Linked DNA regions of Homo sapiens. The gene in region 2 interacts genetically with the main gene of each other region. Each region holds a gene or a part of one and is shown on either strand. Other genes may lie near its edges.

The links. Genes that interact genetically often act in the same process or in processes that back each other up.
Region 1: changes in CAMK2G (region 2) and SKP2 together harm fitness more than expected from each alone (negative genetic interaction), as found in Homo sapiens cells (one large-scale study listed by BioGRID).

The regions. Positions count from the first base shown.
Region 1 is NC_000005.10:36,172,611-36,176,110, forward strand, and holds part of SKP2 (S-phase kinase-associated protein 2), read left to right. Parts: intron 1-3,500. UniProt on the Homo sapiens protein: Substrate recognition component of a SCF (SKP1-CUL1-F-box protein) E3 ubiquitin-protein ligase complex which mediates the ubiquitination and subsequent proteasomal degradation of target proteins involved in cell cycle progression, signal transduction and transcription.
Region 2 is NC_000010.11:73,815,556-73,819,055, reverse strand, and holds part of CAMK2G (calcium/calmodulin-dependent protein kinase type II subunit gamma), read left to right. Parts: intron 1-160; exon of another isoform or gene 161-788; coding exon of another isoform or gene 789-847; intron 848-1,501; coding exon 1,502-1,577; intron 1,578-1,938; coding exon 1,939-2,033; coding exon of another isoform or gene 2,034-2,347; exon of another isoform or gene 2,348-3,189; intron 3,190-3,500.

The DNA.
Region 1 (3,500 bases), on a different chromosome or scaffold from region 2:
TAGTTTTTATTATTCTGAAAAAGATTTGAATCAAACATCTGCAGAATAGATCTTAAAATTTAAGTAGTATAAAACTACTGCTCCAGGACAGATGTCCTCTGGTAAGATGTATAAAGCTATAGAAAATAATTGCTAGGATCTCATGAGTGGGTAGAAATTCGAGTCTTTCACCTGTGCAAGGACTCAAATTTGGACTACTGCCATTCCAAACACTTGCATTTTCAGACAAGGTGAACACTTTCTTTAGCAAGCTGTAAAAGCAGCAATCATGTCTTCATTTCATACCACTCTCCCCACCCAGTATTTATAATTACTATTTTAAAACTGATCATAGTGTTATACAGTCATTTAAAAAAAATGTAAAATACAGAAAAACACAAAGGGAAGCAAATTATCAATAATCTTAACATCTTGCTAGGCTTTTTCCTGTACAAAAACTGTTTTTTTTTTTAATGGGACATGGTATATTAAATACTTCGTAATATGCTTTTTAACCCCATTTTCAGTGACTACATGATGTCATCATCAGTGGCTATGTGATAGTCCATCAAATAGATATGCAATAATTTATATTAAGTCAATAACAATATATGCAGTTGATCAGAATTCTAATGGACTTTCAGAATCTTCCCAGTTTTTCTCTCCTATAAACAATTTTATGAGTGACAGAGACAAATCTTTAGATGCATTTCTAAGGATAGATTCTTAAAAGTGGAATTGCTGGGTCCAGCATTAAGTACTATTCTCAAGTTTTGGATAGTTTCTGCCAAATTTTCCTCCAAGAAGTTTAAACTCTTCACCCACGAGCATCCTCTTAGTGTGAAATCCCATCACTCTTGGTTCTTCTCTGTCTGCAGGTGAAGGGAAGGCAGTGCCTTGTTTATATTTCTTTCCCACATCTGGATCTTTCACTGGTTTACTGAAAGATTTTCTGACATGAATCGAGGCTCTGGGTGCAAGGTTGAGAAACTGCTGTAGGCAAAGTGCTGTTGGTTTTGTCCAAATTTGGCTTAAAATCTTTCCCTTTGTTCCTCCAAGAAAGAACAGAGAGCCTGTTTACCGAGTTTTGGCAGAAATAGTAGGTATTAAAATGCTGCTTGCTAGACACATTCAGGACAGAGAGACAGACTGTAAATTGAAGTGTTAGTTTTTTAATTATACCATGGGGATAAAAAGTTTTTAATGTCATTAACAATAGCACACACCATTTCATTATATATGAGATAATATGGATTTGGTTTTAGCTCATAGACTGGTACCAGATGGCCTGGGTTCAAATATCCACTCTGCCATTTACTGGGTAGACTTGAGCAAGTTGCTAAACTTGCCTGTTCCTTAGTTTTCTCAGCAGTAAAATGGAGATAAGTAGAACCCATCTCTTAGAGTTACAGGAAAGAATAAATGAGTTAAGACATGTACAGCATGTGGAACATTTCTTGCCACATGGTAAGAGTTCAATTAGTGTTGGCTGTTAATACTGTTCCTTCCCCCACTACCCCCATCACTACCTTTCCATGGAGCAATGGATGAAGCACAGAAACATTTGGTCTTGGATTTGACCTTGACTTCTGTAGCTGAAATCATCTCTCCTTTGAAGTAACGGGTTGGATTAACGGGTGGTTTCTAAGATCCTTCTAGCTCAGGTTGGGTCTACTGTTTATGGTGAAATGAAGGGGACAGTGAAAAGGAAACCTTGGCAGTGACTACTGTTTACTAACTACTTCCTGCCCAGGGAGGACAGAGCTTAAGTGTGGGCCAGAGGAAACTAACCCTTTATCCCCCAATGTTTCGTTCTTTCTCCAGTGGTGTCAAAGTATGATTGCATCAGATTTTGCTGATGGCTAGTTGGCTGGCTAGATGATTGGTCCCTCAAAATTTTATTGTGTACTTTTTTCATTTTTTGGTCATTTATTAAATATTTATTGAGCACCTACAGTGATTGAACAAAACAGAGCCTTGAACAAAACAGAGAAAGTCACTCTTATGAAGATTACTTTCTAGTGGGGGAGCCAGAAAGTGAACATATTTCATAAATGTTATGAAAGGAGGTAAAAATGCAAGGACGAAGAGCAAAGCAGAGTAACCAGATAGAATGTGGCAGAAAGAGGACTACTTTTAGATGGAATGGTTAAAGACAGGGCCTCTCTGAGGAGACTGTACTGGACCCAGAGAACTGACTGAGTGAAGAAGGAATCCATATGCATATGTGAGAGAAGAACATTCAAGAACAAAGGACCAGTGAGTGCAAATACCTTGATATGGAACCAATGTGTGAGAGGGAGCAGGGAGAACAGTGAGAGGAGAAAGATGGCCAAGGGCTGTCTAAGCCAAGGCAAAAGCTTTGAATTTTTCCTAAGTGACATGGGATATGGGAAGCCATTGGAGTATTTCGAGCAGAGCAATATGACTGACTTCATTTTAAAAGACTCACGCTAGTGCTGTGTTGAGAAAAGGCTGTAGCGGGGAAGTATGAAGCAGGGAGACCAGTTAGCAGACTAGGCTGGTGACACTTAAGGTGGTAAGAAATGATCAGATTTGGGCACATTTTAAAAACCAACATCATGAGATTTGGTGACACAATGAACGTGGGATGTGAGAAAAATAGTCCACTATGATTTCAAGGGTTTTGGCTGAAGCCACTGGATTCGTGAAATTATCACTTGCTGAGATGGGAAAGAGTTTAGGGAAGGAGGAAATTTGGGGGAGAAATTGAGTATTTGATTTTAGACATAAATTTAGAGGCCTATCTCATATCCAAACGGTATGTTGAGGAGGCAGTTGAAAATGCAAGTCCAGAATTTAGGAGAGGGGATATACTTGTGAGACGAAAAAACCCTCAAATGTTAATGAAGTTTGCCTGTTGTTCTAAATAAGTAACATTTATTGATTCATTTTCTGATTGCCAAGTAGCTTACATGACTTTCTTCCAAATTCTGAAAAGTTGCCTGTAATCCAAACACCCTTGAATACTGCAGTTAACATTTTGGATGTATTTCCTTGCAGCCTTTTTTTTTTCTTCTCTCTTTCTTTCTGTGTATGTGTTTGTGTGTAAATGTGAGTTTGAGTGTGTTTTGACCAAGTTGAAATTATAACGCATTGTATATATTTTGTTTACAAGCTATCCTAGTATTTTTTTAAATGTATGAAATGTTATCAGAAAGCGTTTTCATAATGATTAGCAGTGTATTTCACGGAATGGATGAGGTTAACATATTAAACTAACTGGAGGAGGGGCTAATATAACTGTTGCCACATTGAATATATTCATACACATCTATATTTTTCTAAAAGTGGAATTACTGGGCCAAAAGTAAACTGTATAATTCTCTGAATTCTTTAAAAAAAAAAGAAAATCAGTTCACTATCCAAAAAAAGCAGGAATCAGTTCACTATCCAAAAAACGCAGGGTTCAGGCTCCTGAAAGCCTGCAAATAAAATTAAATATCTACCTGTGGTACATGGAAGACCTACTTTATGGTAGACCTACTTTATAATAGAAT
Region 2 (3,500 bases):
GAGTGTGAAGTTTAACCTCCCAGAGCTGCAGGTTCCTTATCTGTAATGTGGAAATAAAATGGCACGCACCTCAGAGCCTTGTTAGATAAAAGACAAGGCAGTAGGAAGTCTTGATACGGTGCCTCGATGGGTTATCAGTAGCTCATCCTCATATTTCTAGTTACGTCTGTGCTGGAGGATGCCTTTGTCTGCTGCTTTTCCTCCCACCATCTATCCTTGCAGAGTTTCTAAGCACAACCCTCTTCGCCCGTGGGGCCCCAGTCAGGTCATCCAGATGGGTCTGGTGGGGTTGGAGAGGGTGTGTGTGTTGTGGGTGCACACCTGCCTGCTGCTTTTGGAAGCCGATCGAACTCCTTGCTTCCCTTAACCTGCTGCTTGCTCACCTGGAGCTGTGGCCTAGCGGGGCTGACGGCTGTGGGGCCCCCTCCTGGATGTGCCTTTGGCTGCGCTGCCCTGTCCCAACTGTGCTGCTTGGCTGTGCTGGCCCGGCTGGGCCGTGGTGGTGCTGTTCTAACGCTTGCAGTTGTCTTGCAGCCTTTTGCTCCTGTGAGGAAAGGGTTGTGGCCTGGCCCCGCCCAGGGCTCGGGTTAGGATGAGCCCAAGCTCAACCCAAGCTCTCCCTTACCCTGGTGGCAGCCCCTGCTGGTAGTGGCATTCCCTATAAGAGAAGCCCATGCCGGCAGGACATCACCAGCTGTCCCTTGGCTTTGGATGGGTTGGGGAGGAGGCCTCTGGAGGGCACCACCTCTGCCTGCCTGTCAGTCTGAGCCCTGTCTGGTTTTCCTGAGGAACACGTCCTGGCAATGAGAGCTGGTGTGAAATGTGCAGCTTTCCCAAGCCTCGAGAGGTAAATGGAGCAGCCTCTCTGGTACAGGCTGTCCCAAGTTTTTACAGTTCTGGGATCATTTCTCCCAGAAAAGCCCTGTGGAGTTGAGCAGTGGGAAGCATCCATCCTAGGGTTCTGATGGTCCTTTGGCACCCCAGCCCTAGCTGGATTCTGCTGTCAGGCTACCTGTCACCCAGGGCTGGGTCCTGGCCACTGAATGAGGGCTACGAGTGGGGGTGGTGATTGAGACCTGACTGAGCCCCTTCAGGTGAGAGAAGTAAATTGGGGGTGGAAGCGGCCTTATTGGGAGATGCTTGTGAGAGAGGCTGCTCATACAGGGGAGGGGCTCACAGCATTCACGATGTACCAGGCTCCTCACCTGTTAAAGGCAAGCGTGTTTTCTGCAACCTGGTTGTTGATGGAAAGGGAGGCAAAGGCCAAAGAACCATAACTAATGGCTGGGCTTCAGGAGAAAGTGGTCATTGTCTCTGCAGACTGCAGAGAGGGAGACGGGAGGGAAGGTGTGTTCGCTCTTCCTGCCAAGGGCCCTAGAGACAGAGAAGAGGGATGTCTTTGTCATAAGCGATCACAGGGGACTCCTGAGGACTGGGGAGGGCTCTCTGTAACTTGGGAGGTTCCCCAGTAGGTAAATTGATGGATTTTTCTCCCCCACAGTGCGAAAACAGGAGATCATTAAGATTACAGAACAGCTGATTGAAGCCATCAACAATGGGGACTTTGAGGCCTACACGTAAGTAGAGACCCATTTTTTTTTGTGACCTAAGTCATCTCCCAAGGCCTTCCCTGCTTCCAGACAACAATTAGGACCCTGGGGAAAGGGAGGTTGGACCTTGGGCAAAGTATCTGAGTTAAGCCCTCTCCTAAACTGGGAGCCCTTCCAGGTAGATTCCCTGAGCTCACCCATGGTATCCTGGCAGTGGGCCGAAAGCACAGGGCTGAGTGGCTCAGCAGGCAGGCCTGGAAGATCTTTGCTGTCTTGTCTGGCATGGCCACAGGTAGCCTGCTGCTACTGGATAGACACCGCTGATAAGGAAGGAAGACAAGTCACTCCATAGAAGCCTGATAGGCTGCTTTTTTTTTTCTCCCTGTAGGAAGATTTGTGATCCAGGCCTCACTTCCTTTGAGCCTGAGGCCCTTGGTAACCTCGTGGAGGGGATGGATTTCCATAAGTTTTACTTTGAGAATCGTGAGTGGGTTCGTGCTGCTGATATACTCCTGCCTGCCCCTTTACCCCTTTGTCTCTGTCTCCTGCTCACCTTCTCATCCCAGTTGCCCACTTTTCCCTTATTTGACCTTCGTGCTGCACTCCTACTCTGTATGCTTGTCCCCTTGTGCCCCGATGGTTGTAGACAGGCACCTTTGAAGGCCCTGCTCCTGAGCTCCAAGTGCCATTCATTCTGCAGCTGCTTTGTGGCAGTGCCAGTCACCACAATCAAGCTCACTTATTTCTTGCCGGGCGCGGTGGCTTACGCCTGTAATCCCAACACTTTGGGAGGCTGAGGCTGGCGGATCACGAGGTCAGGAGATCGAGGCCATCCTGGCTAACACGGTGAAACCCCATCTCTACTAAAAATACAAAAAATTAGCCGGGCGTGGTGGCGGTGCCTGTAGTCCCAGCTACTCGGGTGGCTGAGGCAGGAGAATGATGTGAACCTGGGAGGCAGAGCTTGCAGTGAGCCAAGATCAGGCCACTGCACTCCAGCCTGGGCAACAGAGCAAGACTCCATCTCAAAAAAAAAGAAAAAATTATTTAAGCCTCACCTCTTTCCAAGACGGATTGGAAGGAAACCCTTTGAGATTAGGTTGAGATGATCTCAGCACATAAGAACTAAGCTCTGTGTCTGCAGGTTTCACAATAGAGGAAATTAAAACCAGGATAAGAATGTGCAAACCAGGGCACTGTTGGTGATTTGCGAGATCGGAAGTTGTGGCTAGAATCTTCCTGACTATGGAGGAAGGCAGACGTCTTGTATAGGGGGTGGGGTGTACATTCTGGACAGTTCATGGAAAATAAGGGGATAAGAAGCTGAATCATCACCCCCTCCCATCTTTCTCTCTGCTCTATGAGACCCTCCCCTTCCTTATTTTTATCTCTTCCCACTTTATGCTGGGCCTTCCCTATCCTGCCCTGAGTTATAGTTAGTCACTAACTTCTCCGCTGGCTCCCACCCTTATCACATCTCAGCTACATATATAAACTCTCTGTTATCTAAGTAATTCTATTAGCCAGAAGCAATTCCAGAGTTTATATTAGTACTAGGAAGGTGTCATGTAGCCCCTGTCTAACATTTGAATTGAACTAAAATGTGAATCTCAATAAAAGCAACACAGTTTTCACAGCATATGCTGATAATGGCAATCCAACTTCTTTTGCCTTTTCCCCAGAGAATCCTGGGAATATCCTGAGCTTGGTGCTTTGATGATTCTATTTCAGCTTTGGTGCCTTAAAAAAAATTACAAATCAATTTTGAATGGTTTAAGTTCATGATTTTGTTCTGCAGCCCTAGCTAGGGGTGAGCCAAGCCTTATGAAATCTAAACTCAGCCTAACAGAATAGAAAATCTATAGGCTTTAGTTAAGAGTCACATGGTCCTGAGTTCAGGTGTGTGATTTGAGCAAATTATTCCTTGAGCCTATTTCCTCATCTTATAAT